Regions from separate parts of the Homo sapiens genome. Here all the other regions are linked to region 2. Evidence: fine-mapped expression QTL. A gene starts in region 2. Each other region holds a variant in brackets. All regions are shown on one strand. Distances are between the middles of the regions.

What was found. PIP is the estimated chance that this variant, and not a neighbour inherited with it, causes the effect.
Region 1: its variant is fine-mapped to the expression of LSR in subcutaneous fat (GTEx, PIP above 0.99). The same link has a PIP of 0.9 or more in lung and sigmoid colon.
Region 3: its variant is fine-mapped to the expression of LSR in CD4 T cells (BLUEPRINT, PIP 0.95).
Region 4: its variant is fine-mapped to the expression of LSR in left ventricle (GTEx, PIP 0.94).

The regions. Positions count from the first base shown.
Region 1 is chr19:35,224,127-35,232,228 of GRCh38, forward strand. It overlaps FAM187B (family with sequence similarity 187 member B), which reads right to left and starts at 4,613. Exons shown (of 2, transcript NM_152481.2): 1 at 3,833-4,613; 2 at 674-1,086. The coding sequence starts at 4,554. The coding sequence ends at 699. The variant C/T (reference allele first, on the strand shown) is at 3,991.
Region 2 is chr19:35,244,578-35,252,671 of GRCh38, forward strand. It overlaps LSR (lipolysis stimulated lipoprotein receptor), which reads left to right and starts at 4,425. Exons shown (of 10, transcript NM_205834.4): 1 at 4,425-4,554; 2 at 5,738-6,082. The coding sequence starts at 4,446. RefSeq lists enhancers at 3,009-3,178, 3,312-4,114, 4,115-4,916 and silencers at 4,029-4,108, 4,519-4,588.
Region 3 is chr19:35,470,783-35,478,884 of GRCh38, forward strand. No RefSeq gene overlaps it. Among named protein-coding and RNA genes, the nearest start is that of KRTDAP, 16 kb to the right of the region's middle. RefSeq lists an enhancer at 67-640. The variant A/G (reference allele first, on the strand shown) is at 4,629.
Region 4 is chr19:35,269,374-35,277,475 of GRCh38, forward strand. USF2 (upstream transcription factor 2, c-fos interacting) reads left to right here. Exons shown (of 10, transcript NM_003367.4): 2 at 73-119; 3 at 208-326; 4 at 430-630; 5 at 1,074-1,224; 6 at 1,345-1,432; 7 at 1,710-1,768. Among named protein-coding and RNA genes, the nearest start is that of USF2, 4.5 kb to the left of the region's middle. RefSeq lists silencers at 8-197, 338-657 and an enhancer at 945-1,684. The variant G/A (reference allele first, on the strand shown) is at 4,765.

The DNA of each region.
Region 1 (8,102 bases), 20 kb before region 2:
ATGGCTTCACTGCACTATTAGGGCAATGAATTTTAATGGCATGAATTATTTTTCACTCTTGCACTCTGCTGAACAGTGTGTGATTTCTGGGAACAGTCAGGCCTGGTGATTCCTGCAGGTCAGCTGAGCCAGGCCTGGCACCTTGTACCAGCAAAAGGGCCTGTCTCCCCTTCCAAGGGCCTGAGGGGCCTCACTCCACCACAAGAGCCTGGAAAAGTGGCGCGTGTCTGGCAGTGCCTCTGACTTGGGGAGTGGTGGCTGGGCCTGAAGGCCTGGGCACAGTGGGGAGGGTGGGCAAGGGATGGGCAGGAAAAGACAGCAGGGCCCAGGGCAGATCTGGGGAGCCTAGAGGTGTCCTGCTCATATCCCCCATCTTGTAGTTGGGGGAATGGGATGAGTGAGGAGGCTATGAGTTACCACCTTTAGGGAGACACCCCAAGAATGGCCTGGTTCCATCTCTCCCTCCTTCTGAAGAACACAGGGCTTGGGACAGGCAACCTGGTTTGAACTAGAATCACCAGCCTCAGTTTCCTCATCTGTTCTATGGAAATTACTAATGAGTTAACAGAGCAGCACCTGACCCAGGGAAGAGCTCGGTCACCCTGGGCTACGGGGCACCGGGGCGGAAGTGACAGAAGGGGCGGCTGTGGCTAAGAGAGAACCGGAGGCCGGGTCCGCTTGTGCACCGGGGGCTCGCTTTATTTCACCACCAGCACCTGTGTGCTTCTCCTGCCCGGGGAAGGGTGGATGCACTTGAGCAGCGCCCCCAGCAGGGCCAGGACGGTGACCACGAGCAGCACCAGCTTCAGCCCCTTGAGCACGGAGTCCGCCCTGCCCCGCAGGGCCTTCCTTGCCTCCCGCCACTGGGCATCGTTCTCTCTCCACTGAGCCTCCAGCGTCTCCAGACTGGCGGCGGGTTTGAACTGGGCCACGAGCTCCTGCTGCACGAAGCACTTGTAGACGGCCGGCTGGAAAACCTGCAGCTGCCTGCCGCCGGTGGAGGGGTCCAGAAAGGTGGTGAAGTCCTGGCCGGAGAGCTGGCTCTCCCACGTCAGGGGGGTGTCGTTGGCACGCCAGTTGACGGGCCTGCGAGGAGGACAAGGTCAGGTGCAGGGCCAGGGAGAAAGGAGGGACCGACGTCTCCCTGAGGAACAGAAAATAAAGCACCGCCCAGTCCCCCTCCTCGCCACCCCCCACGGAGCACTGTGCAGCCGTCAACAGTGGGGTGGAGGAGGCACAGCTGGGGGCTCCCAGGGCTCCACCCGTTACTGGCCCCACCCCTTACTGGCTCCCCTCTTCCTGGCTCCACCCCTTACTGGCCCCACCCCTTACTGGCTGGGTGACCTGGGCAAATGCCTCCAGCTCTTTGAACTTCCATTTCTTTATGTAAAACTAAGAGTCTAGACCAGGCTTGGTGGCTCACACCTGTAATCCCAACACTTTCAGAGGCAAAGGCAAGGAGGATGGCTTGAGCCCAGGAGTTCAGAACCAGCCTGGACAACAAAGCAAGAACCCATGTCTGCAAAAATTTAAAAAATTAGCTGGACATGCTGACATGCGCCTGTGGTCCTGGCTGCTCAGGAGGCTGAGGTGGGAGGATTACTTGAGCCCAGGAGGTTGAGGCTGCAGTGAGCCAGTCACAGCACTGCACTCCAGCCTGGGTGACAGAGCAAGACCCTGTCCCAAAAAAGAAAACAACAAACCAAAAAAAATGGAGAGTAATGATTGTACCTCATAAGGTTATTTGGAGGAGTTAGCAAGGGCACTCCTTAAATGATTTGTCCACCTGCCTTTGCCTGTCTGGTCTCATCTCCTTCACTCTCCCCTTTACTCACTCTGCCTAGCCACGCTGCTCTCCTAGATGTTCCTCTGACATGCTGGGTGCAGTCTTGGCCCTGGCTGTTCCCTCTGTCCCCAGGGCTTCCTCGCCTCCTTTCAGTCTGGGCTGAAATGGCAGCTTCTCAGAGGAGCCTTCCCTGACCCCACCACTTGACACTTTTAACCTCCCCTATTCCCAGCATCCCTTCCTGCTCCGTCACCATCCAAAATACTATAGGTCGGGCACAGTGGCTCAGGTTTGTAATCCCAGCACTTTGGGAGGCCGATGTGGGAGGATCACTTGAGCCCAGGAGTTTGGGCTCAGCCTGGGCAACAAAGTGAGACCTCATCTCTACAAAACTTAAAAACTTAGCCGGGTGTGGTAGTGCATGTCTGTAGTCCCAGCTACTGTGGAGGCTGAGATGGGAGAATCACCTGAGCCCGGGGAATTGAGGCTGCAGTGAGCTGTGATTGTGCCACTGTACTCCAGCCAGGGTGAAAGAGCAAGACCCTGTCTCTAATAATAATAACAATAATAATAATAAAACTATATATTTATGCGCCACAAGGGCAAGAATCTCCGTTGGTTGTGTTCTTCACTGTTTCCCAGGTCCCTAGAATGGAGCTTGGCATATAAATATGCAGTGAACACGTGTTTAGTGGAGAAATGAATCAGGCACCGACACACCCAGCGTGGTGGAAGAACAGAGAGGATATTCCACAGACAATATCATAAAAGCTTGCATTCCCAGCTAGGTACATTGTGGAACTTCTTATTGGATGCTATGGCAGGCACTCTACAGTCTTTAGTCCCCTTAACACATCACAATGACCCTGTGTGGCCAGGGGCTGGCAAGACCTCTGCACTGAGTTAGACAGTGGCCCCCGCAAAATGCATGTCCTTCCCAGAACCTCAGAATGTAACATTATTTGGAAATTGGATCATTGCAGATATAATCAGTTGAGATGAGAGCATATTGGAATAAGGTGGGCCCTCAATCCCATCTGACCGGTGTCCTTTTAAGAAAAGGAAAAGAGAGACAGGGACACAGACACCCAGGAAGAATGCCAAGTGATGATGGAGGCGGGCATTGGAGAGAAGCAGCCACAAGCCAGAGAAGACCGGGATCTCTGACTGCATCCAGAAGCTAGAAAAAAGGAGGATTCTGCCCAGCTCACTCAGAGGGACTGAGAGGGAGCGTGGTTCTACTGACACCTTGATTTCAGACTTACGGCCTCCAGAAGGGTGAGACAATGGATTTCTGGGGTTTTTTTGTTTTTTTGTTTTTTGAGTCAGAGTTGTCTCGTGATGTTGCCCAGGCTGGAGTGCAGTGGTGTGATCTCGGCTCACTGCAACCTCCGCCTCCCGGGTTCAAGTGATTCTCCTGCGTCAGCCTCCTGAGTAGCTGGGATTACAGGCACGTGCCACCATACCTGGCTAATTTTTGTATTTCTAGTAGAGACGGGGTTTCACCATGTTGGCCAGGCTGGTCTCGAACTCCTGACCTCAGGTGATCCACCCACCTCGGCCTCCCAAAGTGCTGGGATTACAGGCATGAGCCACCGCGCCCAGCCTGCATTTCTTATTAAGGGGCAGGTGGACTGGGGGAGAGGAGGGGAAGGGGCTATTTTCCAGAGGCTCCTGGCAGGAAGTAAGAAGATGAGTGTGAGTTCTGGGAGGCAGGCCTTGATGGGAAGCCCCGGGGGCACCAGCCTCTCCTCCAAGGTCTCACTGACCTTTCCAGATGAAGCAGGGGCCTGTTGGAGCCCCTAAGCTTCCTGGGCTTCCCCCATCACAGCCCCATCTGTCTGCCTGGGCTTCTCCCATCCCGGCTCGCACCACCCTGGGCTGTGTCCCCCTCGGACTGTTTAAGAGCAGGGCCTGGCACTGTCCTGATGACCACTACGTGGCTGAACTGCAAAGAACGCCCACTCATCCCTCTGCACATATTACCAGGAAGGATCCCCTGACCGGAAGAATCTGGGTAGGGGCCAGAGGCAGGGATTCCATCACCTGTACATGGATCCTAAGGGACAGTCGAGCCACACAAATTCTGTCTTCTCATCGAGCCTGAAGTTGTCAAAAATGACGTAATCCACCCTTAACTGTGTGTTATTGGTGCACTGGACGTGGCAGGCTTCCACCTGCAGCTCAGGCCGCAAGCGGCTAGA[C/T]CACACCAGCACCTCTCCCAGATAGAGCCAGCAGGGCATGGCTTCCTCCAGAGGCTCCTCAATGTAGCGGTACCCCAGGCGTTTACACTCGCCCGGCTCCTCACAGCGGTTGCAGTCCTGCCAGGGCTCCCACCAGGTAAAAATGAGCTGTTTGCTGCCCAAATGCAGGGTCTCGTTCTGCAGGGGCCTCTGACCCAGGTCCTTGTGTGTTATATGCAGGGTGGTGACATCCTGAAAGTCAATTTCATACTGCACCACTTGGCGGCCATTCTTGTTCCAGCAGTGGTAGAGGCCCGTCTGGGAGGGCAATGGATCTTTAATGAGAAGGCTGCCCTCGGGCATTATTTCCATATTGGAAATATTGGTGAGGCTGGTGAGCCTGCCCTTCTTGCCTTGTGTGAATAAATAGTACCAGTGCGCCCCCGAGGAGTTGCAATACAGGAGAATATCATTGCCTGAGAGTAGGGCCTGTTGGCACTGCTTACCACTGGGGCAGCTGATGGAAAAGTAGAACCCCAGTGCCGGGGCAGCAAAGTGGAGCAGCAGCCACAGCATGGGTGGCATGGTGGACTGGGGCTGTGGCAGTGGGCTGGTGCCACCCCGAACATTGTGAGGTCACCCATGAACTCTGGCCTCAGCCCTGGGCAGTGGGATGAATTGCAGCTACCACATGTGTGTGTGAGGTCACCATCCCCTTTTGTTTTGTGACAAGCTGACAACACTGTTTTTCTTTTTTTTTTTTTTTTCAGACAAGGACTCGCTCTTTTACCCAGGCTGGAAGGCAGTGCTGCAATCACAGCTCACTACAGCCTCAAACTCCTGGAATCAAGTAATCCTCTCACCTCAGCCTGTTGAGTAGCTGGGACTTCAGGTGCATGCTAACCATGCCCAGCTAGTTTAAAATTTTTTCTGTAGAGACGGGGTCTTGTTATGTTGCCCAAGCTGGTCTCGAACTCCTGGCTTCAAGCCATCCTCCCACCTTGGCCTCCCAAAGTGTTGGGATTACAGGCGTGAGCCACTGTGCCCCGCTGACCATATTTAATTTCTATTCCAAGCCCTCCATTTTGCTGGGAAAGGAGCAAACTTAATTTGTCTATTCAGAGTTTTCTCTACTACCTGCCCCGCTTCCTTTCCCAGGGGTGAGACTACATTCCCAGGGATGAAATAAGAGCATGAAGGTGTCACATGTGAACACTCAACACATATTTCCTGAACTCTTACTATGTTCTGGGCACACTTCTTAGCACTGGGGATAAAGCAGTAAACAAATCCTCTCGGGCTGGGCTCGGTGGCTCATGCCTGTAATCCCAGCACTTTTGGGAGGCTGAGGCGGGCGGATCACCTGAGGTCAGGAGTTCAAGACCAGCCTGGCCAACGTGGTGAAACCCCGTCTCTACTAAATAGCTGGGTGTGGTGGCGGGCATCTGTAATCCCAGCTACTCAGGAGGCTGAGGCAGGAGAATCACTTGAACCTGGGAGACGGAGGTTGCAGTGAGCCGAGATCGCACCGCTGCACTCCAGCCTGGGTGACAAGCGTGAAACTCCATCTCAAAAAAAATAATAAAAATTTAAAAAAATTTATCTCTGGTTACTGTTCTGACCTCCTGCACCTTTCCCCCTACTCCCTACCCTCCAACCACGCTGGCCTCCCGCTGTTCCCTGAATCTGTCAGGCAGGCAGAGGGGCTCTTGCCCCAGAACCATTGCACATGCTGGTCCCCGTCTCTTCCCTCAGCCATCTGCATGACTCAATACATCTTCAACAAATATTTTTCTCAGTTGCTCCCTTTCCTTCCATCCCCTTTTCTAAACACCTTCTCAGGCGGTGGCTCACACCTGTAATGCCAGCACTTGCCAGCACTTTGGGTGGCCAAGATGGGAGAATCACTTGAGGTCAGGAATTCGAGGCCAGCCTGGCCAACACGGTGAAGCCCCATCTCTACTAAAAATACAAAAAATTAGCCAGGCATGGTGTCGGGCATCTGTAATCCCAGCTACTCAGGTGGCCGAGGCAGAAGAATAGCTTGAACCCAGGAGGCAGAGGTTGCAGTGAGTGCAGATTGCGCCACTGCACTCCAGCCTGGGTGACAGAGACACTGCCTCAAATAAATAAATAAATAAATAAATAAATTAAATGATCTTCCAGACTTTTCCCAACATAGAAAAAGATGGAAGATTTCTATGAGACTTGCATCACCTTATCTCAAAACCTTATAAGGACATTACAACAAAGAAAAACCTCAGGTCAATCTCTTTTGTCAACACAGACACACTATCCCAAAGAAAATATTGCAAATTGATTCCAGTGATTTTCTTTACACAAGGATAAATATAAAGACCAAATTGGGTTATTTCAGGACGGCAAATTTGGGTTATATTTGCACATCAATTAATGTAATTCACCACATTAACAGAATAAAGGAGAAAAACCATATTATTATCTCAGTAGATACAGAGAATGCATCTGATAAAACTCAACATTCATTTATGGCTCAAAACTTTTGGCAAACTAGGAACAAAAGGAAATTTTCTAAGAAGATAAAGTGTTTCTATTAAAAACCTAGGACAGGCCGGGTACAGTGGCTCACACCTGTAATCCCAGCACTTTGGAAGGCCGAGGCGGGTGGATCACCTGAAGTCAGGAGTTCGAGACCAGTTAGGGTAACATGGCGAAACCCTATCTCTACTAAAAATACAAAAATTAGCCGGGTGTGATGGTGGGTGCCTGTAGTCCCAGCTACTTGGGAGGCTGAGGCAGGAGAATCATTTGAACCCAGGAGGCGAAGGTTGCAGTGAACTGAGATTGCGCCATTGCACTCCAGCCTGGGCAACAGAGTGAGACCCTGTCTCAAAAAAAAAACAAAAAACAAACAAACAAACAAAAACACCTAGGGCTAAATTATACTTCATAGTAAAATACTAAGAATAACACAAGTATTTCTGCCATCAACTTTTCCATTCAGCATTTTACTGGAGGTAAGATACAAGCAAAAAATTAGATATAAGGTCATATATTAAATATGATTTATATACCAGCAACAAAGAATTAAAAGATGAAACTTAAAAGATTACTATAGGATAGTATGAAAAAATTAAATACCTAGGAATAAATATAATAAAAGATATGTGAGTCCTCTACATTAATAACTTCACATTATTGGGAGAAATTAAAGAAAGACTAAACAATGGAAGTATTTGCCACATTCACGGATTGGAAGACTAAATATTGAATATATATTGATTTACCCCAAATTTATCTTTAGATTCAATAAAGTCCCAATTAAAAAAAAATAAGAGTTTTGGGGTGGAAACTACAAACCGATTCCAAAATTTGTATATAATGGGCCAAGAATAACCAAGACAATCTTGAAGAACAAAGTTGGGAAACACTACCACATATTGTGACTTATTGAAAGGTATAAAAAGACACTGTGGGCTGGGTGCAGTGGCTTGTGCCTGTAATCTCAGCACTTGGGAGGCCAAGGAGGGCAGAATCACTTGAGGTCAGGGGTTCAAAACCAGCCTGGCCAACCCCTTCTCTACTAAAAATATAAGAATTAGCCGGGCATGGTTGCGGATGCCTGCAATCCCAGCTACTTGGGAGGCTGAGGCAGGAGAATCGCTTGAATTTGGGAGATGGAGGTTGCAGTAAGCTGAGATTGCGCCATTGCACTTCAGCCTGGGCAACAGAGGGAGACTCCATCTCAAAAATAAATAAACAAATAAAAGGAAAAAAAAAAAAGAAAACCAAAGACACTGTGGCATTGGGACAAGGATGGATAGATAAATTGTATCCAGGGTCCAATCAGGAGACAGAAACATCAGTGTCTACATTGTCATGAGCCCATGGGCCTGAGTAGCTCGGTCTCTAGATTCTACATTTGGCCTCCCCCTGAATATCAGAAGCCTGTGCAGACAAGAACTAGGTCATTGCTGTGTCCCTAACATCACCTGCCCAGGGCACACTCAGAGGAAACACCAGGGAATTCTTCCTGCATGCGCATCTCAGCAAGCCAGTGAGGAGACCTTTTCCTTAGCAGAACCAACATGAAGGCTTATGGGCTGGGAGACGGAGCCCGGTTTTCTGTTGGAAGGTAACCCATGAGCCCAGGT
Region 2 (8,094 bases):
TAAAAAACACACACATGATCATCTGAATTAATACAGAAAAGGTATTTGACAAAATTCAACACACCTTCATGATTAAAAAAAAAAAAACAGAAAACTAATCATACAGGGAAAATTCCTCAATGTGATAAAGGGTATTTATGAAAAACTCACAGCTATCATCATACTCAATGGTGAAAGATTGAAAGCTTTCCCCCTAAGATCAGGAGTAAGACAAAGATGGCCATTTTCACCATGGCTATTGAACACTGTATTGGAAGTTCCACCCAGAGCTATCAGACAGAAAAAGGAAATAAAAGTCATTCAGATTGGAAAGAAAGCAGTAAAACTATCTCTATTCACAGATGACACGATCTATGTATAGAAAATCCAAAAGAATTCACAAGACAGCTACTACAGTTAATAAACAAGTTGCAGGGTACCAGATCAACACACAAAAATCAGTCATGTTTCTATGCACCAGCACTGAACAATCCGAAGAGGAAATTGAGAAAACAATTTCATTTACAACAGCATCTAAAACAATTAAATACTTAGGAATAAATCTAACCAATGAGGTGAAAGACTTGTACACTGAAAATGACAAAAGATTGCTAAAATAAGGCCTGGCACGGTGGCTCAAGCCTGTAATCCCAGCACTTTGGAAGGCCGAGGCGGGCGGATCACGAGGTCAGGAGATCGAGACCATCCTGGCTAACACGATGAAACCCCATCTCTACTAAAACTACAAAAAATTAGCCGGGCGTGGTGGTGGGCGCCTGTAGTCCCAGCTACTCAGGAGGCTGAGGCAGGAGAATGGCGTGAACCTGGGAGGCGGAGCTTGCAGTGAGCTGAGATTGGGCCACTGCACTCCAGCCTGGGTGACAGAGCAAGACTCAGTCTCAAAAAAAAAAAAAAAAAAAAAAAAAGATTGATAAAATAAATTAACAAGTATCTAAATAAATGGCATAAATGGCAAGATGTGTTCATGGATAGAAAGACTTAACATTAAAAATGTCAATACTACCCAAAACAATCTACAGATTCAACACAATGCTGATCAAAATTCCAACGTCTTTTCCCAAAGAAATGGAAGCAGATCCTCAAATTCATATGGAGTTTTAAGGGGCCCCCAATAACCAAAACAATACTGAAAGAGAAGAATAAAGTTAGAGGACTCACACTTTCCATCTGTGAACTTACTACAGAGCTATAGTAATTAAAACATATGGTACTTGCATAAGGATAGGCGTATAGATCAATGAAATAGAATACAGAACCGAGAAACAAACCCTCACATATATGATTAATTGATTTTTGACAAGGAAGCCAAGACCACTTAATGGGAAAAGGACAGTGTTTTCAACAAATGGTAGAGGGAAAACTGAATATCCATATGCAAAAAAATGAAGTTGGACCCTTCTACCACATACTAAAATTAAAATGGCCCAGGCCGGGTGCAGTGGCTCACACCTATGTGAGCACTTTGGGAAGCCAAGGCAGGTAGATTACTTGAGGTCAGGAGTTCGAGACCAGCCTGGCCAACATGGTGAAACCCCATCTCTTCTAAAAATACAAAAATTAACCCAGTGTGGTGGCATGCACCTGTAATCCCAAATACTCGGGAGGCTGAGGCATGAGAATCGGTTGAACCCGGCAGGTGGAGGTTGCAGTAAGCGGAGATCACACCACTGCACTCCAACCTGGGCGACAAAGTGAGACTCAGTCTCAAAAAATAAAATGAAATAAAATAAAGTGGCTCAAAGACTCAATTTAAGAGTTAAAACTATAAAACTCTTAGAAGAAAATATTGTTGAAAATCTTCATCACATTGGACTTGGCAACAACTGCATAAATAGGATACCAAAAGTACAAGGAAGAAAAAATAGTAGGTAAATTGAACTTCATCAAATTAAGAACTTTTGTGCACCAAAGGACACTATCAAGAAAGTGAAAAAACCTGGAGAATGGAAGAAAATATTTGCAGATCATATATCTAACAAGGGATTAATATTCAAAATATATATAGAACTCCTACAACTTGACAACAAAAAAACAAACAACCCAATTCAAAAATGGGCAAAGTACTTGAATAGACACTTCTCCAAAGAAGATATACTAATGGACAATAAATTCGTGGAAATATGCTCAACATCGTTAGTCATTGGGGAAATGCAGATTACAACCACAATGAGATGCCACTTCACACTAACCAGGATGGCCATAATCAAGAAAATGGATAATAAGTTTTGGTGGGGATGTGGAGAAATTGGAATCCTCCGTGCATTGCTGGTGGGAATGTACAATAGTGCAGTCATTGGGGAAAACAGTTTGGCAGTTCCTCAAAAGGTTAAAAATAGAACTACCAAGTCACCCAGCAATTCCATTCTTAGGCATATATTCAAAAGAAATGAAAGCAGATATTTGTACACCAGTGTTCACAGCTGCACTATTTACAATAGTCAAAAGGTAGAAACAACCTAGGTCCATCCACAAATGAATGGATAAATAAAACGTAGCATATACATACAATGGTACACTAGTCCGCTGTAAAAAGAAATTTTGATCTTACTGCATGCTACATGGCTTCGACATACTACAACATGGATGGACCTTGAAAACATTATTCTTTGTGAAATAAACTAGACACAGGACAAATGTTAGACGATTCCACTTATATGAGGCACCTAGAATGGGCAATTTGGTAAGCAAAGTAGAATAGAAATTACTAGGGGCACAGGTAGCAGGGAATGGGGAGTTACTGTTTAATGGTCACAGAGTTTATGTTGGGGATGATGAAACAGTTTCGGGGATAAAGAGTGGTGATTGGTACACGACATTGTGAATATACTTAATGCCACTGAATTTTACACTTGAAGTGGTTAAAGCGATAAATATTATAGTTTGCATATTTTATCATAAAAATATTTTTTTAAACGATGAAGGGACGTGAACGGGTTGAAATTTTATAAAAAGTGGCCAGGGAAGGTGTCACTGCAATGGTGTCCTACAGGAGGAGGAAGATCATGTGGACATCTGCGGGAAGGGTGTTCTGGCAGAGGGAGTAGCACGGGCGATGGCTCTGAGGACTGTGAGAAGTATAGTTGGAAACAGCGAGGAGGCCAGGGTGTCCGAAGCTGAGTAAGCCAGAGAGAGTGGGAGGAGGTGAGATAAGAGGGGGAAGGTCAGTTTCTGCTGAGAGTGAGGAGGAGCCACAGGAGGGCTGTGAGCAGGTGGACGTGATCTGGCTTGAGTTTTAACAGGGCCAGTAGAACAAAGCACGCCTGGGTACCGAAACCAGCCACTGGCCAGTTGGCAACCTGGGGGAGTCTAACGCGAGGAAGCGCCCAGGGTTCCCCCAGGATGCGCTTTCCCTCGCCGCCACCTGGAGACAGCAGAGTCACGCCCAGCGCTGCGCAGGCTGATCGCCGCGCCGCGCCCCCGCCCTCGGTCGCAGGTGGCTCGTTCCGGGAATTCCTAAGCGGAAACCGGTCCCAAGCCCCGCGCCTTCGCTCGGCCCCTTTAAGAGCCAGAATTTCCGGAGGGCTGACCCGGGGGCTAGGGATGCCCAGGGGCCGAACCACAAGTTGGGAACGGGTGGGGGAGGTGGCGAAAACTTCCGAAGTGGAATTCCAACTTTTCCTGGCCCTGATTCCCCTTGGGCATCCCTGAGGGGGCAGAGCTTCCCTTCCGGGGACTTTAGAGGGTTCCTCAGGTCATCTAACTGGGAGACACAGGAGGCCCGAAGCGCCCCCCCTCCACCCGGTCCGGAGGAACCCCAGTGGAAGTGGAGAAGTCAGGCGCCACCAACAAGCCTCTCCCAGCCAGGACTTTGCTTAGACTCGCTCCTCCCGGCAGGGCGCACCTAGGCGGGTCCATCGCCAGCCGGGGAGAGGGGTTTGGGCAGGGAGGGAACAGGTGCGCGGCGGGACCCGCCCTATCTCAACAGGTGAATCGCTCCAAGTGGGTCTCGGTTGCATGGATCTCGGTGCGCTTGGTTTGGCCGGAGCAGATGGGGGCCGGAAGGGACCTGTGGTCCGCAGGCGCCCTCCCAGCGGGCCAGTCACTTGGTTCGGGCCCTGGGGGACGGAGCGCACCTGGGTCAGCCCACTTCCGGGGAGGGAGGCAGAGGAACCCCTCCCCGCCGCTCACCCCTAAGCCCAGCCCTCGGCTCCCACCCTTGTGTACCTGGGCCGAACCATTCACCGGAGCGCGCAGCGGGTGGAGTGTGGCTCGGAGGACCGCGGCGGGTCAAGCACCTTTCTCCCCCATATCTGAAAGCATGCCCTTTGTCCACGTCGTTTACGCTCATTAAAACTTCCAGAATGCAACAGGACGGACTTGGAGTAGGGACAAGGAACGGAAGTGGGAAGGGGAGGAGCGTGCACCCCTCCTGGCCTTGGTGCGCGCCGCGCCCCCTAAGGTACTTTGGAAGGGACGCGCGGGCCAGACGCGCCCAGACGGCCGCGATGGCGCTGTTGGCCGGCGGGCTCTCCAGAGGGCTGGGCTCCCACCCGGCCGCCGCAGGCCGGGACGCGGTCGTCTTCGTGTGGCTTCTGCTTAGCACCTGGTGCACAGGTACGGGGCACGGGGCCTCTGACGCTGCGGAACGCCGGAGGGAACTGTAGAGGGGGATGGATGGAGTTGGAGGCGGCGGGAAGCGGGAAGCGGGGGTCTCAGAGGCTGGGACCTTCCGATCCCCTGGGTCTTGGGCGATCTGTTGCGCGCGGGAGTGAGAGGAATTCCCCATTTGTGCCGGGGAGCGCTCCCCGCGCCCTTATCTGGAAGATAGCAGGAAGTGAAACTCCCTGGACGGTGAGACCCGGAGCGGCAGGGAGAATGGAACTCTTTGTGGGGAGGGAGTGGAAGACCGCCCGATCTCTGGGAAAAGAAAAGCCGGGATGGGACTTGGGCGCACCCGGGGATTTCTAAGTTTTGGAGTAACGGGGAGAGGGCACGGGAGGGCTGGATCAGACGCTTCCTAGAGGGACAGAGACGAAGGAACAATGCCTAGGCCTCGGGTGGGTGTGGGACTGGGGACTCCCCATCCCCCGCACCCCACCCACCTCCCGCGGGCTCCGGATTATACGTGCGTAAGAGTCTGGTGGGATGGATTTACGGACTTGAAACCGACTTCTGCTGGCAGGCTTTCACCTGGATGGGATATTTGGGTGGTGATGAGGTCTTTCCCGAGACACTTTTGGTTCAGTCATTTGAAATGACTTTAGAGTAGGGTGAGGTGGTGGGAGGCTGATGGAGATATTGTGGGGGCTTTAGTCCCTCCATGGCAAAGCAGTTCAGGCAAACAACTCCATGGTTTTCCCTCCAAATTCAAAAGGCCCCGGGTAACCTGGAATCCTTCGTAGTCGGTTTTGAAGTGGGGCCTTGGGCGCTGGGGGCATCAACATGGCCATCTGGGCTTGCCTGCCCAGGCCACACAGAGGCCCCTTGTTGTGGGTGAATGGCAAAGGGAAGAGGGGACTGGTGTGGTTCAGAGGCCACAGGCTGGGAAGAGGGATGGCGGGCGAGTCCAAGGAAACTGGCCGTGTCACCGTGCACCTGCCACTTCAGCCCCACGGGTCTATAAAATGGGCATGATTATCGTGGCTACCTCACTGGTCCTGGCAATTAAGGAACAATGTGTGCCAGGCACTCTGTAAACCACATACTTGCGAGTGTCAAGCTGGTGACAGGTGGCGTTCCTGTTGAAGCACCTCCCTGAGCTCACAGCAACCCTTGCTGTCTCTCCTCTTGCCCTCAGCTCCTGCCAGGGCCATCCAGGTGACCGTGTCCAACCCCTACCACGTGGTGATCCTCTTCCAGCCTGTGACCCTGCCCTGTACCTACCAGATGACCTCGACCCCCACGCAACCCATCGTCATCTGGAAGTACAAGTCTTTCTGCCGGGACCGCATCGCCGATGCCTTCTCCCCGGCCAGCGTCGACAACCAGCTCAATGCCCAGCTGGCAGCCGGGAACCCAGGCTACAACCCCTACGTTGAGTGCCAGGACAGCGTGCGCACCGTCAGGGTCGTGGCCACCAAGCAGGGCAACGCTGTGACCCTGGGAGATTACTACCAGGGCCGGAGGATTACCATCACCGGAAGTATGTTGGGCAGGGCAGGGGGATGAGGCTGGGCTTGCCCGGGTGGTGGGACTGGCGTCCTTGTGCGGGACCTGGAGTCCCCATCTGAAAGCTCTTGAGTGCCAGTGTCTGAAAGGACCATTGAAGGGAGCAATTCTTTTTTTTTTTTTTTTTGAAGATGGAGTCTTGCTCTGGACTCCAGGCTGGAGTGCAGTGGTGCGATCTCAGCTCACTGCAACCTCCACCTCCCAGGTTCAAGCAATTCTCTTGCCTCAGCCTCCCGAGTAGCTGGGACTCCAGGTGCGTGCCACCACGCCCAGTTAATTTTTGTATTTTTAGTAGAGATGGGGTTTCACCATGTTGGCCAGGCTGGTCTCAAACTCCTGACCTCAAATGATCTGCCCGCCTTGGCCTCGCAAAGTGCTGAGAGACACCATACCCAGCCTAAAGGGAGCGATTCTATTCTACTATTCTTCCTTCTGCTAATCCTTCCATTCTTTAATTTAATAACGAAGATTTTTTGAGTACCTGTCATATACCAGGTGCTGTTCTGGGCCCTGGGAATACAGCTGTTAACAAAATCATCAAACCACTTCCCTCGTGGAGCCCACATTGCAGTGAGAGAGACAAACACGACACACACTCTCAAGTCCTTGAAGATAAAGAAAACTGGGTAACGGAGAGAAGAGGCCAGGGTTTGTTCTATAATCATTAATAACACGAGCAGTAAGAAGTAAAATTTATCTAAGTAACAACTTATAAAGGGTCTACTGTGTGCTAAGCTCTCATCCAGGTTCCCAAGGATTAACTCAGACCACACAGTAATTGAATAGATTCTATCATTGTCATCTTACAGAGGCCCAGAGAGAGAAAGTGACTTGCCTAGTGTCATAGCTGGTAACGGGGCTGGGATTCTAACTCAGCCACTTTGGGTCTAGTGGCCAAGCTCCTAATCCCTTTGCTTGCCTAGGGTGGTCCGCAGAGGACTCACAGAGGAGATGGCAGGAGTGAACTGCAGGGGCAAGAGAGCTTAATGGAGAAAGCCTGTGACATGCCAGGAACTGCACACATATTCTCCCATTGAGTCCTCTCCTCTACCCTCCTGACAGCTGAGGCACAGAGAGGTTACCTTGTTCAAATGGGTGCATAGGAAGTCAAAGTCTGGAGCTGGGGTTTGAACCCAGGCAGCCCTGAGAACCTTGTTCTTTTTTTTTGAGACGGAGTCTCGCTCTGTCGCCCAGGCTGGAGTGCAGTGGCGGGATCTCGGCTCACTGCAAGCTCCGCCTCCCGGGTTCACGCCATTCTCCTGCCTCAGCCTCCCAAGTAGCTGGGACTACAGGCGCCCGCCACTACGCCCGGCTAATTTTTTGTATTTTTAGTAGAGACGGGGTTTCACCGTTTTAGCCGGGATGGTCTCGATCTCCTGACCTCGTGATCCGCCCGCCTCGGCCTCCCAAAGTGCTGGGATTACAGGCGTGAGCCACCGCGCCCGGCCCCTTGTTCTTAACTGTAATGCTGCCTCCTGATAGGATGTGCCTGTTGGGACTAAGTAAGGGGCAGTCATTCATTCATTCATTTGGTATTTATCAAGCATCGACTATGTGTCGTTGGTGCTGGGGATAGAGGTGATTGGGATGGCTGAAGTTTCTGTCGTCAAGGAGATGACATTCTGGTGGAGTGAGACTGGCAGTAAATAAGCAGATAAAGAAAGAGTATGAGAATTTCAAAGTCTGGGCACGGTGGCTCACGTCTGTAATCTCAGCACTTTGGGAGGCCAAGGTGGGTGGATCACCTGAGGTCAGGAGTTCCAGACCAGCCTGGCCAACATGGTGAAACCCCGTCTCTACTAAAAATACAAAGATTAGCCAGGCATGGTGGCACATGCCTGTAATCCCAGCTACTCAGGAGGCTGAGGCATGAGAATCGCTTGAACCCAGGAGGCAGAGGTTGCAGTGAGCTGAGATCGCACCACTGTACTGCAGTCTGGGCGACAGAGTGAGACTCTGTCTCAAAAAAAAAAAAAAAAAAAAAGA
Region 3 (8,102 bases), 230 kb after region 2:
ACACATAAAGCCTGGTTTTAAGTTGATTCTGCTGAGGACTAAGCTCTGATTTTTTATCCTGCCCAAATTCCTATCTAAGGGGCCCAGAGAATCGTGCCCTAAAAACCATAAATTCTCATCAGTTGGGTTTTATTTAACCCTATATATCGTGACTTACTTTCCAGTCTTACTGTGGCATAACGTTACTTGATAAAGAAGAAAGTCAAAATATTTTACTCCAAAATCATATTTTGAAGTGGCCCTGCAAAGCTGTCCTTTGTGGGGAAAATTTGCATCTGTAAAGAATCTCTATCAACATAGCTAGATCTTTTTCTTCCAGGCCCTCCCAATCCTGAAGAGATTAACTAAGAGTCTAGCACCTTTTAAAGATCTGAATAGGAAACATTTGTCATCTATTGTCTCTAAGGGCAGCCACTGTAAGACTTCAAAAGAACCTTGGTCTCCACAATCTTTTAACCTGAACATATCCTTTCTGTCAATCCCAGGTCTTTAGACAAACTCAATCAATTGTCAACCAGCAAATGTTTAAATTTACCTATAGCCTGGAAGCCCTGCCCCACTTTGAATTGTCCCATCTTTCTGGACCAAACCAATTAATTTCTTAAATGTATTTGAGGCCAGGCATTGTGGCTCACGCCTGTAATCCCAGCACTTTGCGAGGCCAAGGCGGGCAGATCACGAGGTCAGGAGATTGAGATCATCCTGGCTAACATGGCAAAACCCCGTCTCTACTAAAAATACAAAAAAAAAAAATTAGCCAGGTGTGGTGGCGGGCGCCTGTAGTCCCAACTATTCGGGACGCTGGGGCAGGAGAATGGCGTGAACCTAGGAGGCGAGGCTTGCAGTGAGCCGAGATCGCGCCACTGCACTCCAGCCCGGGGGACAGAGCGAGACTCCGTCTCAAAAGAAAAAAAAAATGTATTTGATTGATGTTTCATGCCTACCTAAAATTATAAAACCAAGCTGCACCCTGACCACCTTGGGCAAATGTTCTCAGGACCTCCTGGGGGCTGTGTCACGGGGCCATGGTCACTCATAATAAATCTCTTCAAAATATTTTACAGTTTGACTCTTTTCATCAACACTGTTCACCAAACATACACAGAGAAGAAAACTCAAATTACTCTAGCGTTTAGGTCCTGTTAACTGACCAACTACTGTGAGCTACACTGAGGGCTAAGCACTTCACGTCCAGGACGTCACTGAATCCTCACAACTGGGTCTGGAGGGAGGGTATTTTCATTAACTCCCTTCACAGAGGAGGACCCTGAGGCTCAGGAATGTGAAGTGACCTCCCTAAGGTCACATAACAACTTAGGAACTCAACTTAGGCCTGACTGGTTCCTGAGCCCATGCGTGTAGCTACATCAGTATGTTAGCGGCGCAGGAATGATGACAATGATAATAACAGCAGTTTACGTGCTTGCTATGTGGCAGCCCTGTGCATTTCATGTATAATCTCATCACATCTCCATGGCAATCCCCGTTTTACAGAAGAGGAAACTGAGCGTCAGCAGAGAGAAGTCACTTGTTTGCCCAGGGTCATCCAGCAGAATTGAGACTAGAACCCAAACCACCGGCATCCATCCAGTGGCTCAGGCCAAAATCTCAGTAGCCATCCTTGACTCCTCCTTCTTCTTCCTCCATATCTAATCCATTGGTTCTAGTTGGCTTCAGTTTTCAAAATACATGTTCACTTCTCACTATCTGACTACTGCAGGCCCCATGGAAGCCACCGCCGTCTCTCTTCCAGGCCAGTTTGAAAGACTTCCTACTGAACGCCCTCCCTCCATTCCTGCCTCTTGCCCCCACCCCATCCACTCTCTACATTGCAGTCAGAGTGATCTTTTTCAACTCTTTTGCTAAATATCTCTCCTGCAACCTTTCTTAGGGTTTTGGGAGACAATTAAGCTCTGCAGAGAATGGTTTGAGTGATTGTTTTCTTGATTTTCCCAAGGATGCTACTAGCTAATACCATTACTTACTACAGTAGGAGATAACTTAATTCATTACATGCAATGGATGCCTTAGAGTCTTAGGGCTTAAGTCTACCGGGAACTGGGTGGAGACAGCTGCAAAAGTTTCCTGTCACATTTCAAATACCAGTGACCATGGCCTACAAGGCCCCTGTGACCTGCCACCCACCACACCTTGACCTCTGCAGGTACATTTCCAACTACCCTTTTCCCAAGCACAAGACCTCTTCTCCCTACCTCAATCATAGAAGTCTCATTGCTGCCTTAGAGCTTTTGCAGGGGTTGTTCCCACAACCTTGAGCCCTGCCCAAGCCATCCAGAGCCTGCTCCTTTTGTCAGTCATTCAGGGCTCAGTTCAAAGACCACCAGCTCAGAGGGGCCCTCTCGGCCACCTGAATTAAATGCTGCCAATTCCTGCTGTTTTATTTCCTTTATGGCACTTATTTATCATAATCTGAAAGTACCTTTGCTTGTTCACTCAACTGTTGTGTGTCTCCCAAGTTAAGGCTGAGCTCCATGGGGCAGAAACCTTTTCACAGGGAAGCAATCTGTAAAAATATGTTTAGAGAATCCATCAGATATCTATTATGAGCCAGTCACTGGGTTAGGAGCTTTGCAATGAATCCTTTTTATCAACCCCAACATTGTCCAATAGATATACAATATAAGCCAAGGCCAGGCACAGTGGCTCATGCCTGTAATCCCAGCAATTTGGGAGGTTGAGGCAAGAATGACCCTTGAGGTCACCAGTTCGAGATCAGCCTGGACAACATAGCAAGACTCTGTCTCTACAAAAATTAAAAGGGGCCGGGGGTGGTGGCTCACGCCTGTAATCCCAGCAATCTGGGAGGCCAAAGCAGGTGGATCACCTGAAGTCAGGAGTTTGAGACCAGCCTGACCAACATGGTGAAACCCCATCTTTACTAAAAATACAAACATTAGCTGGGCGTGGTGGCTGGCGCTCGTAATCTCAGCTACTCAGGAGGCTGAGACAGGAGAATCACTTGAACCCAGGAGGTGGAGGTTACAGTGAGCAGAGATGGTACCATTGCACTCCAGCCTGGGTGTCAAGAGCGAAACTCTGTCTCAAAAAAATAAAAAAAAATAAAATAACTTTAAAAAATTAAAAGAAAGAAATGTAATGTAAGCTATTTTTTAAAAAATCCAAGCCTCTTGGATTCAAGCGATTCTCCTGCCTCAGCCTCCCGAGTAGCTCCAGGCACCATTTAAAAATTTTTAATTGTCTAATAATCAAATTAAAAGAAGTAAAAAGAAACAGACGAAATTAATATATTTTATTTAAACCAACATGTTCAGAGGATTATCATCCCAACATGTAATTGGTTAATAAAGATATGAATAGATGACAGATGGATGGATTGGGGTGTGTATGTGTGCATGTGAGCTCCTCCTCTATACCTTTTCTGGGTTCTGAGAAGCTCAGCGGCTTCGTCGCTATTCGGGGACTCACGGGCTTGCCCTTCAAGACCCAGCCTCAAAGCCCCAGACACTGCATCTCTGCTTTCCCGCCTTTTCTGTACCTGTCTCCATGTGGTGCTCCCTTCAGGGCCTGCACACAGGGAAGGGAGGGCCGTCCTCCCGCGAGGCCTCAAGGTGCCTATCGGTGCAGTGGCTCAAACAAAACAGGTGTGACAAAAGGCCAGGAATGCCTCCCAGGGGCTGAGGCACCTCAGGGAGCGTGTTAGAAGAAGTGGACGGTAAAAAGAGAGCGTCCGGGCCAGGAGCGGTGGCTCATGCCTGTAATCCCAACACTTTGGGAGGCCGAGGTGAGTGGATCACTTGAGGTCAGGAGTTCGAGACCAGCCTGACCAACATGGAAAAACCCTGTCTCTACTAAAAATACAAAATTAGCCGGGCATGGTGGTGCATGCCTGTAATCCCAGCTACTCAGGAGGCTGAGGCAGGAGAATCGCTTGAACCCGGGAGTTGAGATTGCACCATTGCACTCCAGCCTGGGCAACAAGAGTGAAATTCCATCTCAAAAAAAAAAAAGAGCGTCCAGAACCAGGACGCATGCGCACATTAGCCCCGACTGGAAGTGCATGAGGACAGAAGGGAAGCAGAAGTTGGGGCTGAGGTGTTCCTGCTGAGAAGAGTGATGGATGTAAATTTTGAAGCTCTGGATCCTGCCCACACCATGGAGCCAAGAGGACCAGAGGAGTCAGCATTGAACTGGAAATCAAGTTGGAACTGAAAATTGACTTATCCACAAATAGTAAGAACTGTGAATTTGGGCCTCAAGGAGAGGAAATTTTATTCCTAGGCAGGGTCTTCTTGGGAAGGCAGCCGGACAAGGCTTCTCTGAAGTCCAGTAAGGTTTTGGGAGGTTTCATTGAGAAACTGAATACTGAGAATGAAATGCTGAGAAATGAACAGATGCAACAGCAAAATTTTTTCCAAAAATTGTGCTGTGTTCTAAATATTTACATTGAATGAATGATACAAAAATATACTCAGGTCAATACAGTTGTGCAGATGATCGGATTTATAAGAAATAACGAGGTGACCTGTTAATGAGAGATAATTTTTTTTTTTTTGAGATGGCGTCTTGCTCTGTCGCCCACACTGGAGTGTAGTGGCACGATCTCGGCTCACTGCAACCTCCGCCTCTTGGATTCAAGCGATTCTCCT[A/G]TCTCAGCCTCCTGAGTAGCTCCAGGCACGTGCCACCATGCCGAGCTAATTTTTGTGTTTTTAGTAGAGACAGGGTTTCCTCATGTTGGCCAGGCTGGTGTCGAACTCCTGACCTCAGGTGATCCACCCACCTCGGCCTCCCGAAGTGCTGGCATTACAGGTGCGAGCCACTGCACCTGGCCAATGAGACACAGTTTTTAAGTTGTACAGTGAATGACACTTCGTGGTCCCAATCCAGTTAGCCTACCTCTGTGACTCTGAAAAATCTCATCTCGAGATAACTTAAGGAGTGAAAATTGAAAGTCTTCCTAGTTTCTGCCCCTATTGGAGAGGGGCCCCAGATGTTCTGTTAGGAATTAGTAAGCAGGATGACCCTGAGAATAAGCCACAAGAGGAATCTGTGATAACTGGACGTCCTGAGAGATTTTCTCATCAGATCACCAGTGCTGGAGGGACATCCAGGCTCCATCCCTGATGCTACATTGGGAATGAGTGATGAGGGGTGCTCTGTATGGGGAGTGAGGTTTTTCATAATGTGCGAGGGTTTCTGGCTAGAACAACAAATAAAACAAGATTACGTTGAATAATCAGACTGGCAAGGCCTCTTGGAGGAGGTGTCATTGCCACAGAGACCTGGATGAAGTGAGGGAGCAAGGGAAGAAGGGAATGAGTCATGCAGGCAGAGGGAACGTGGCCTTTTGAAGAGCCCTTGAGGAGGCTGGAATGGGGTGCAGAGGGCTGGAGCAAAGTGATCAAGATGGGAGGGGGAGGTAGGAGATGAAGCCCATAGTAAAATCTATGGGGTTTTATTACGAAGTAATGGGAAATCATGGGAGGGTAGAGAGTAGAGAATAGAGGGAGAGCATGAACTGATTTAACATAAAAAGGGCTTTCGGGGAGGGGTGATAGAGGCTCAGTAGGAGGCTAAATACAAAAGCGGTCACTTGCTGTAGGGGGCGCTAAGGAGCATTACCTCAGGTCACCAGCCTGGGAAGTAGACTCAGGTGCAGGTGAGGGAAATGAGGCATCTTTCCATGGGAGAGCCATGGGGATTTTTGTTTGTTTGGGTTGTCATTGATTTAGGGGAGGAGAACCCAGGAATGTTGTGGTCAGTTGGTCTGTTGGGTGTCAGAAAATGTAGTGGGAGGTCTTAATGGGATGATAGTCATCAAGGGCGGGGTGCTGTGTTCATTTCTCAGGAGCATCTGAGGCCATTTCACCCTGTTGAAGTTCTCGGGCCGCCTCCACAGTGCCGCCATTGTTGGGGTTTGTAATGAAGTAAATCAGGCTCTCAGGAGGGACTATGTTTAGGAGGTAACATGAAGAGCACCCCGTCAGCCACCAGAATTCTCAACCTTGTCCCTCACAGCTGAATGGCTTTGGACAGATTGAAGTTAAGGTGTCTTTATTGTGGTTGCCTTAAAATATTATGTTAGGCTGGGCATGGTGGCTCACTACTATAATCCCAACACTTTGGAAGGCTGAGGCAGGAGGATGAGTTGAGCCCAGGAGTTCAGGACCAGCCTGGACAACATAGTGAGACCCCATCTCTACAAAAAATTTTAAAAATTAGTCAGGCGTGTTGGCATGCACTTGAAGTCCCAGCTACACAGAAGGCTGAGGCAGGAGGATTGCTTGAGCCCAGGAGGTCGAAGCTACAGTGAGCTATGTTTGTGTCACTGCACTCTGGCCTGAGTGACAGTGTGAGATTCAGTGTCAAAAATAAATAAAATAAAATGTTATGCTATGAAGTATTTCAAACACACATAAAGATATGAGAAACCATATTAACAAACTCCTGTGTACACATTCCTCAATTGTTTTTTTTTTTTAATTATTTAAGACGGAGCCTTGCTCTGTTGCCCAGACTGGAGTGCAGTGGTGTAATCTCGGCTCACTGAAACCTCCGCCTCCTGGGTTCACACCATTCTCCTACATTAGCCTCCTGAGTAGCTGAGATTACAGACACATGCCACCACGCCTGGCTAATTTTTGTATTTTTAGTAGAGATAGGGTTTTACCATGTTGGTCAGGCTGGTCTTGAACTCCTGACCTCTTGGTCTGCCCACCTCAGCCTCCCAAAGTGCTGGGATTTCAGATGTGAGCCACCACACCCGGACTGCGCTCTTATTTTATTGCTGGACAGCTACCATTCCACCATGTGGTCCACCCTATTTTACACATCCATTGTTTTTTTTTTTTGAGACAGAGTCTCGCTCTATCGCCCAGGCTGGAGTTCAGTAGCATGATCTTGGCTCTCAGCTCACTGCAACCTCCACCGGGTTCAAGCGATTCTCCTGCCTCAGCCTCCTGAGTAGCTGCGATTACAGGTGCCTGCCACTACACCCAGCTAATTTTTTGTATTTTTAGTAGACACAGGGTTTCACTATGTTGGCCAGGCTGGTCTTGGACACCTGACCTCGTGATCCACCTGCCTCAGCCTCCCAAAGTGCTGGGATTACAGGCATGAGCCACCATGCCCACCCCTGCCCCTCCCCCCCGCTTTTTTTTTTTTTTTTTAAGCCAGGGTCTGGTTCAGACTGGAGTGTAGTGTTGCCATCATAGCTCACTGTAGCCTTGAACTCCTTGGGCTAAGTGATCCTCTCACCTCAGCCTCCCAAGTAGCTGGGGCTACAAGCATGCACCACCATGCCTGGCTAATTTTTTCATGATTTTTTGGAGAAACAGGGGTCTCACTATCTTGCAGAGGCTGGTCTTGAACTCTTGGCCTCAAATGATCCACCTGCCTTGGCCTCCCAAAGCACTAGGATTATAGATGTGAACCACTGCACCCAGCCAACACAAGAAACTAAAATAGTTAAAAATTCTAGGGCTCTGAAATCTAATAGAACCTGAGTTGAAAGCCTGGCTCTGCTATTTCTTCTGTGGGTGCTCTTAGGAAAGTCACTTCATCTTTATGGGCCTCAGTTTCCTCATCTGTCAGAAGAGAGCAAGTGAATACAGTTGCAAATATTATTTCTCTAAGTATGACTCTATCTGAGTCATTATCTAAGTGGAGTTTTATAGCATAATAATAACAGCTACCTTTTATTAACATGAAAAAATCTAGGCTAACATTTACTGAGGTTTTCTAAACCCTTGTGAAGTATTGCTATTATTCCCACTTTACAAATGATGAAACTTTGGCCCTGACAGAGTAGCCACCCAGAGGTCACGTAGCTAGTAAAGTGGTAGGAACAGAATTTGAAATCAGGTCTGACTGATTTTATAACTCATATTCTAACCGCTAAGTTGTACCACCTTAAATGCCTCCAGCGGATACTTAGCAGTGGTTTCCAAACATTTTTTAAGGAATGGAAACATTTTTTTTTTCAAGCAAAGTCTTAAATGAAACAGTAGGTTATAAAGCAAGTGAAGGCCAAATTACACCAGTTAAAGCAGGGATAATGCAGGTACGGGTTCAATCCTGGCTCTGCCGGGTCCTGGCTGTGTGAGCTTGAACAGATTACAGTC
Region 4 (8,102 bases), 25 kb after region 2:
TGCAGCTGGGCGCGGGGGCGGGGGCGCGGGCGCGGGCCGCGCTGACCCTGCTCCCTCCTGTGCCCCTGGCAGCCACGACAAGGGACCCGAGGCGGAGGAGGGCGTCGAGCTGCAGGAAGGTGAGTGCTTGCCGGGCCGGCCGCGCCCGGGGAGGGCTGGGGGCGCTCGGCGCGGCCCTGACCGTGCCCCGACCCTCCTCGGCCCCAGGCGGGGACGGCCCAGGAGCGGAGGAGCAGACAGCGGTGGCCATCACCAGCGTCCAGCAGGCGGCGTTCGGCGACCACAACATCCAGTACCAGTTCCGCACAGAGACAAATGGAGGACAGGTGAGCGGCGGGCCGCGAGGGCGAACGGGCGGGCGGGCGGGCGCGCCGGGAAGGCTCGGACCTGGCCCCAGCGCCGGCCTCGCCGCTCTGCCGCCCCCTGCAGGTGACATACCGCGTAGTCCAGGTGACTGATGGTCAGCTGGACGGCCAGGGCGACACAGCTGGCGCCGTCAGCGTCGTGTCCACCGCTGCCTTCGCGGGGGGGCAGCAGGCTGTGACCCAGGTGGGTGTGGACGGGGCAGCCCAGCGCCCGGGCCCCGCCGCTGCCTCTGTGCCCCCAGGTCCTGCAGCGCCCTTCCCGCTGGTAGGTGCCCTGCCACCCCTGGGTGGGGGGGGGAGGGAGTGGAGAGGGGACACTGGCTCTGCTCTTGGGGAGCCCCGGGGGTGGGGCAGGTGTCGCCCAGCGGATGCTGCCTTCAGGCCTCAGGCTGCATGGGGCCAGATCCCTGTTGTGCACCGTGAAACCTGGGGACAGTGCTCTTGGAATTTTTTTTTCCCGCAAAATGGGAATGATGTGTCTTAAGAGGAAAGTTTCTTAGAGTGCGAAACGGATTTGCTCAGCAAGTGATCGCTGACCTCCCGCCATGTTCCAGGGCTGTTTGAAACACAGGACAGAATGCTACACGCAGAAGGAGTCCCCACTCCTGTTAATTGCAGAGAATGCAGTAAACCCCAAGCACAGCAATGAGGGGACGGGATGGAGGAACAGAGAAAGCTAAGGGTAGCCTCTGCCCTCCTACTCCCCAGGCTGTGATCCAAAATCCCTTCAGCAATGGTGGCAGTCCGGCGGCCGAGGCTGTCAGCGGGGAGGCACGATTTGCCTATTTCCCAGCGTCCAGTGTGGGAGATACTACGGCTGTGTCCGTACAGACCACAGACCAGAGCTTGCAGGCTGGAGGTGAGGAGTAGAAGTCAGATTGGCAGGTGGGGGAGGCAACGGGCCCAGCAGGGAGGGAAGCCCCCCCAGCCAGTTCTGACTTCACCCTGCCTTGCCACTAACCCCCCACTCTCCCTGCAGGCCAGTTCTACGTCATGATGACGCCCCAGGATGTGCTTCAGACAGGAACACAGAGGACGATCGCCCCCCGGACACACCCTTACTCTCCGTATGTGCAGGGGACACCTGGAGGGCCTGGTGTTGAAATGGAAGGAAGAGGGGTTTCTGGAGTAGAAGCTGGGCAGTTAGCATGAAGTGGGCACATGGTGTAATGTTTTTTTTCTTTGCCTGTTTCTGCTGCTCTAGTGCACATAAAGTATCATGTCTTTTGTTTTTGCAGATGGATTTACCTTGCAAAGATAATTTTCAAATCTAATACTTAGCAGATGCTTGGGCAAACAGCTCTGCGATAATACATGCCCCCTTTTTTTTTCCTCCTCTTGTAGAAAAATTGATGGAACCAGAACACCCCGAGATGAGAGGAGAAGAGCCCAGCACAACGAAGGTGAGGACAAGGTGTGGCTCCGGGTCCCCCTGACCACCACCCTCACAGGCTCAGCCAGCCCTGGAGTGTGGAGTGACAGAGAGAGAAGCCACTCCTGGGCAGGCCACAAGTGCTCCAGAGGGCTTTGCTGGACGCTGTAAAGGTAGAAAGTGAGCAACGAGGGGAGAGTACAGTGTCAGAAGTAGAGGGACAGGGAGTGTGAATTGGAACTGGCCATTTGTTGACCCGGCTGGTGATCTTGAATTCATGGCCCACATCTAAGATGGTGGACTTCACACTCCCATACGGATTGCCTGCCCCACTTGAAAAATGGGGCTGACCGGGCTCACGTGGGCTGACCTTTCCACGTGGCAGCTGTCATGCTCACATCCCGCACTCCCATGCCTGCCTGGCCTCCAGAAGTAGGTCTGTTCCCCCAGGGAGCACATCTGAGGGAGAAACTGCATGAAGTTCTGCCTCTGGCTACCTAAGGCCGGAGCATCCTGCCCTTTCCAGAAACACCAGGTCTCACCTCAGGTCATTTGGCCTTCAGCACTGTCCCGCCCCGCCTGTCAGTAGCCACTGCAGTGGGCACAGCACTGTGCAAGTGCCAGGAGAGTGCTTACACCCAAACAACCATCATTCAACAAATATTTACTGCCCGTGGGTTCTGGGCTGAGCGGCACAGGCCCTGTGCCAGGTCTGGAGTCTGGCCTGGAGCGTCAGGGAGGCTCAAAGGCCTGAGGGCTTATGTCTCATGGGTCTCATGGGACATTGATGGGGGGTGGGCTGGGGTGACGCTTCCCTAGGGAGAGGGGAGTGTGGGTCAGGTTACTTTGTGGGGTGCTGGTTTGGTTGTGGGAGAAGTTCCATTTAGAATGCCTCAGGAGGGAAGATCGGGAAGGCCTCGAATGCCCGAGTGAGGGGCTGAATGCTGAGTCCTAAAGGTGGTGATGGGACTGGGGTCTGTGGCCCAGGTAGTTGTGTTCTGAGCAGCTCCTCCCTGAGTTCAGGCGTTCATTCAGCGCGTGCATACTACGACCAGCCCCCCTTTTGCGTCCTCAGATATGGCAATGCAGCAGATGATAGGACAGACAAGGTCTCAGCTCTCTGTGCGCGTTCTGGTGGGAGAGATGGGAGTCACACAGCCGCATCAGGCAGTGCAGGCAGTCACAGGCAGGAGAGGAAAGCTGGGGAAGAAGGTGGCGGGTGATGGCGGCATGGTAGTGTGCTCTGAAGGGCTCTTCGAGAGGTGACATTGAAGCAGATCCCTGAAGCGACCTGAGGGAAGGGGCCTGTTGAGAACCTCAGGAGAGTCCCGGGCAGAGGGAAGAGCTAGAACACAGGCCAGGCCCTGAGCCAGGGCCGCCATGGTGTGTCTGCAGAAGAGCAGAATTCAGGAAAGGAAAGAGGAAGTTGGCGCAGTGGAGGGGGCTGCCCAGGCCAGATGGTGGAGGACCTTGGAAGAAGTCCCCAGTGTGGCTGTCTGGGCTCCTGTGGTTTTATTCCAGGGTGATGAGAAGCCAGCAGAGGGGTTTGGGTTGTGGAGGCTGTTGGCAAGAGTGGTGGGAAGGGGCTGGGAGGTAGGAGACCATACGACTGTCAGGCCTGAGACAGGGCAGGGGTTGGGGGAAATGTGGGGAGGACTCCAAGGCTGGAGAATAAGGGTTTCGTGCTGAACTCCCCTCCATGCTTGGAAGGGAAGGGGTGCATCTGAGCTTGGTTTTGAGATGCAGTGAGTTTGAGGGGCCCCCAGAGCAGCCCCAGCCCCACGACTTACCTGTGGTGGGGCGTCAGGGTGGTTCTTAATCTCCGTACCTGTCTTCCCTCTGTGAAATGGTGGAAGCACAGCCGCCCCGGGCACCTGGTGGGGATGCAGTGAGTCTTGGTGGCCACACAGTAAGGCGAAGAGAGGACTCAGAACCCTCCCACCCCACTCTCACCCCCGCCTCTCCCTTAGTTAATCTGACTCCAGGCAGCCTTGAAACTTTCTCACCCTGTGAAGCAGTCTTCATCACCTGCCCACTTCTCCAGCTCCGTCCTGTCTCCGCTTTCCTGACTTGCAGAGCATCTGCCCCAATCTGCTCATCCTCCCAGTACCCTCAGCCATCTGGCTCATGGCTCTACCAAAACAGCTCCACTTCCGGTCACCCGTGGTGACCCCATTGCCACATCCACTGGCCTCCTTTGCTGTCTGGGCTCCAAGCATCTGATGCTGCCTGTTTCCCTCTGTTCCTTTCTGGAATCTTCCTTTCTCCTCCATCCTCTCTGATTCTCCTGTGATCTTTGCCTTTCCTACCCCACTGTTAACAGTGAAATTTCCAGGGCTGTCCCAGTTCCAAGTGAGTAGATGGGGGTGCCGGGGAATCTGTGTTTTCCATCAGCTCTTCAGGTGATTTGTCATAGTGGACAAGCTTGAGAAACTGCTTTGGCTGCGAGTGTTTCTTTTTTTTTGAGAAGGGGGTCTCACTCTGTCACCCAGGCTGGAGTACAGTGGCACAATCACAGCTCACTGCAGCCTTGACCTCCCAGGCTCAAGCGATCCTCACACCTCAGGCTTCTGAGTGGCTGGGACCACAGGCAGGCGTCATCACATGGGGTAATTTTTTTTTATCTGTAGAGTGGAGGTCTTGCTATGCTGCCCAGGCTCGTCTTGAACTTCTGGCCTCAGGCAGTCCTCCGGCCTCGGCTACAGGCCTGAGCTGCCACACCCAGTCTTGCTGGTGTTTCATAAGGTCCGGCCCCTCCCGTCGGCCTCAGGTGTATGACTTGTGAGGCCCAGCGATGGGCTCGGAAGCTCTTGGTCAGTATCCCCCAAACTCTGTTCCCCCTTGTAGGTGTTCCTCTTTTTTCTTTGCTGCAGAAGAGTGTGTGACTCACAAAAAGTTGAGGACTGTTCCTTGATGTCCTCCCAGGCTTCGCCCACCACCTGGCTCCTGGTAATGCAAGGAACTGTGTTTCCATCCATTCCCTTCCTTTCACTGCAACTCCAGCCCCACGTTTTGAACTACCTATTC[G/A]AGATTTCTGTCTCTGGACATCCCTGTAATGCCTCAAACTCAACTCGCCCAAAAGAGAATGTGCCATCTCCCGTCTCCAAAGGCTTTCATGCAACCTTCTTCTTTGCAGAGCAGCAAAAGCTACCCCTGTCACAGCTGCCCAAGCCAGAAACTAAGACCAGAGCCGCTTTCAACTCTGCCCTCTTCTTCCCTTATGGCCACAAACCCCAAGTTTCTCTTCTGTGGTGATTTCAGATCCGCTTCTCTCACTTCTTTTTCCCTCCTTCCCACCACTTCTTGGTACTGCAGGAGCTTATCCCAGAGTCACAGACTCAAATGCCTGCAGGGGCCTGAGGGAGGGAGGTGCACTTGGCATCTCAGGAAGGGGTGTGTGGCTGGGTGTGGTGGCTCCCGCCCGGAATCCCAGCACTTTTGGGATTACATTTTGGCCAAGACGGACGGATCACTTGAGCCCAGGAGTTTGAGACCATCCTAGGCAATGTGACAAAACCCTGTCTCTACCAAAAAAATTAAAAATTAGCCAGGCCTGGTGGTACATGCCTGTAACAGTCCCAGCTACTTGGGAACCTGTGGTGGGAAGATGGCTTGAGTCCGGGAGACAGAGGTTGCAGTGAGCTGAGATTACCCTCCAGCCTGAGCAACAGACCCAGACCTTGTGTCAGAAAAAGATAGGAAAGGTTGTGGGGGGCCCCCAGTGATCTGGGGCATGTGTGCGCTGCCTGAAGGGTGGCCCTTGCCCAGTGCCTTCCCCTTGCTGCCCTGTCAGAATCTAGGGCCACTGTTGCCAGAAACTCTGAGAAGCTAGAAATCGAGACTTATGTGAAATCTGATTTTTAGGTGCCAGATTAGATTGCTTTTTCCGTTTCATTGATTTCTACTCTTAATGTTACTAATTCATGCTTCTACTCACTTGGTTTTTTGTTTGTTTGTTGTTTTGTTTTGAGATGGAATCTCGCTCTGTCACAGTGGCGCAATCTCAGCTTACTACAACCTCTGCCTCCCCGGTTCAAGTGATTCTCCTGCCTCAGTCTCCCAAGTAGCTGGGACTACAGGTGCCCGCTGCCACACCTAGCTAGTTTTTGTATTTTTGGTAGAGACGGGGTTTCACCATGTTGGCCAGGCTGGTCTCGAACTCCTGGCCTCAGGTTATCCACCTGCCTCAGCCTCCCAAAGTGCTGGGATTACAGGAGTGAGCCACTGCACCCGGCCCCTTCTACTCACTTTGGATTCAATTTGCTAGGTTTCATGCTTTAGCTTCCCTGGCACACCCCAACCCCAGCTTTTTAAGGTAATTCTTTTTTTTTTTTTTTTTCCAATTTTCTACTAAAATCTTTATTTTACAGGATTAATGTTTCACAGCAGGGATTGAGATGATTCTTAACCTTTCTCTTTGCTTAACAACATTTAGAGTTGCCAGTTCACTCCAGCATCACTTTAGCTACATCCCACTGGGATATGTTGTTTTTGTTATCATTCAGTTTAAAGTGTTTTCCAATTTTCCTTGTGATTTCTTCTTTGACCTTTCTGTTATTTGGAGGCAGGTTGCTTAATTTCCAAATATTTGTGGGTTTTTCAGATATCTTTTTGTTATTGATTTTTAATTTAGTTCTGTTATGGTCAGAGAACATACTCTGTATGATTTCAGTTCCTTGAAATTCGATGAGACTTACCCGACGGGCCCGAATGTGTCCTAGCTTGGCGGAAGCTTCTGGGGCATTGACGAGGACAGGTGTCTGCTGCTGTCAGGCAGAATGTCCCCCCAGGTCAGTGAGGTCAGGCTGGTTGAGTGTTCAGGCTTTCTATTCTGATTTTTGTTGTTGTTGTTTACTTGTTCCACCAATCAATGAGAAAGATGTCCATGTCTCTCACTATATTTGTGGATTTGTCCATTTCTTCCTTCAGTCCTGGCAGGTTTCGCTTCTGAATTTTCTCTTTTTTTTTTTTTTTTTTTTGAGACAGAGTCTCGCTCTGTCACCCAAGCTGGTGTGCAATGATGTGGTCTCGGCTCACTACAACCTCCACCTCTTGGGTTCAAGCAATTCTCGTGCTTCAGCCTCCCAAGTCGCTGGGATTATAGGCATGCACTGCTATGCCTGGCTAATTTTTGCATTTTTAGTAGAGCCGGGGTTTCGCCATGTTGGCCAGGCTGGTCTCAAACTCCTGGCCTCATGTGATCCACCCTCCCAAAGTGCTGGGATTACAGGCGTGAGCCACCCCACCCAGCTTCTGAATTTTAAGTTTCCTATGGAGTAACTGAAGTGCTTCTGTGGAATGAACGTGGCCTTGGTCCTAATGGGTCTTCCTGTATTTCAAATGTGCCATGATGGTCTTCCGAAGCCACAGGCTGGACAGCATTACCGCCTGCTAATGTCAGGGCCTGGATTCAAGGGCCTGGGACTCTGGAGGAGGAGGAGATGCGGTCCTGACCTGCGAGCAGAGCACACAAGGCCTTGACAACCGATCTTTACAACCTTTTCCCACCCCTGCATACCCTGAAATGGTTTTCAGGCCACCATTTCTGGGATCTTCCCAGCTGCCTGCCTTAGAGTCTTTCTCTCAGAAACCAGCCCGAATGTTTCCTGGATCTCTGAGGATTCATCCCACCCCCATTCCCATGCAGAGGCCATGGCTCGGCGCCTGGCGTTCCCGAGGCACTTTGTACCATCTTCAGTGATGACACGAATGCAATGGGGTTAGTGCCACTTGCCCACAGTGGTGCTGCGAGTGCCCATGGGGCGCACCGGGGCTGCTTCCACCCTGGACCCCAGCCTGGCGGAGGGCCTGGCACATAGTAGGGCGGGGAGTAGGTGTGTAAGAAGTAAGCTTGCTCTGGAGAGGATGTACCTGCAGCCGGCGCCCAGCTCTCGAGAGGACTGTGGGAGGGCAGAGGCTGAAACGAGGCCGCCTGCCGAGTTCCTCCACAGACCCCTGGGCGAGGAGCGCTCTGCTGGGGACTGCGCCAGCGGTGCCTCCAGGCCTGGACTCTCAGCTCCGCTGCTGCTTTTGGCCAGAGTTCCCAAAGGCGGGTGTGGTTGTCTTTGGTGGGAAGGTTCAGCGCACCGCGATAGTAATAGGGGAGCAAGCACTCGCTGAGCCCAGTGCAGGGCCTGGACCGTGCTCCATAGCAAGCACTGATCTTGGGCTATTGGTTTTGGAGGAAAGAGGGAGCACAAGGATGGAAGGGGCCAGGGAAGAGAGGTCACGGTGGGAGAAGGAGAGTCCGCATCCATCGGAGGGTTTGTCACTCAGGCCTGAGTGGGAGGCACTGGAGGCAGGGAGAGGCCAGTCAGCAGCATGCGGCCACAGCCCAGAGAAGCCAGAGGGGTTTGCTGGTGGGT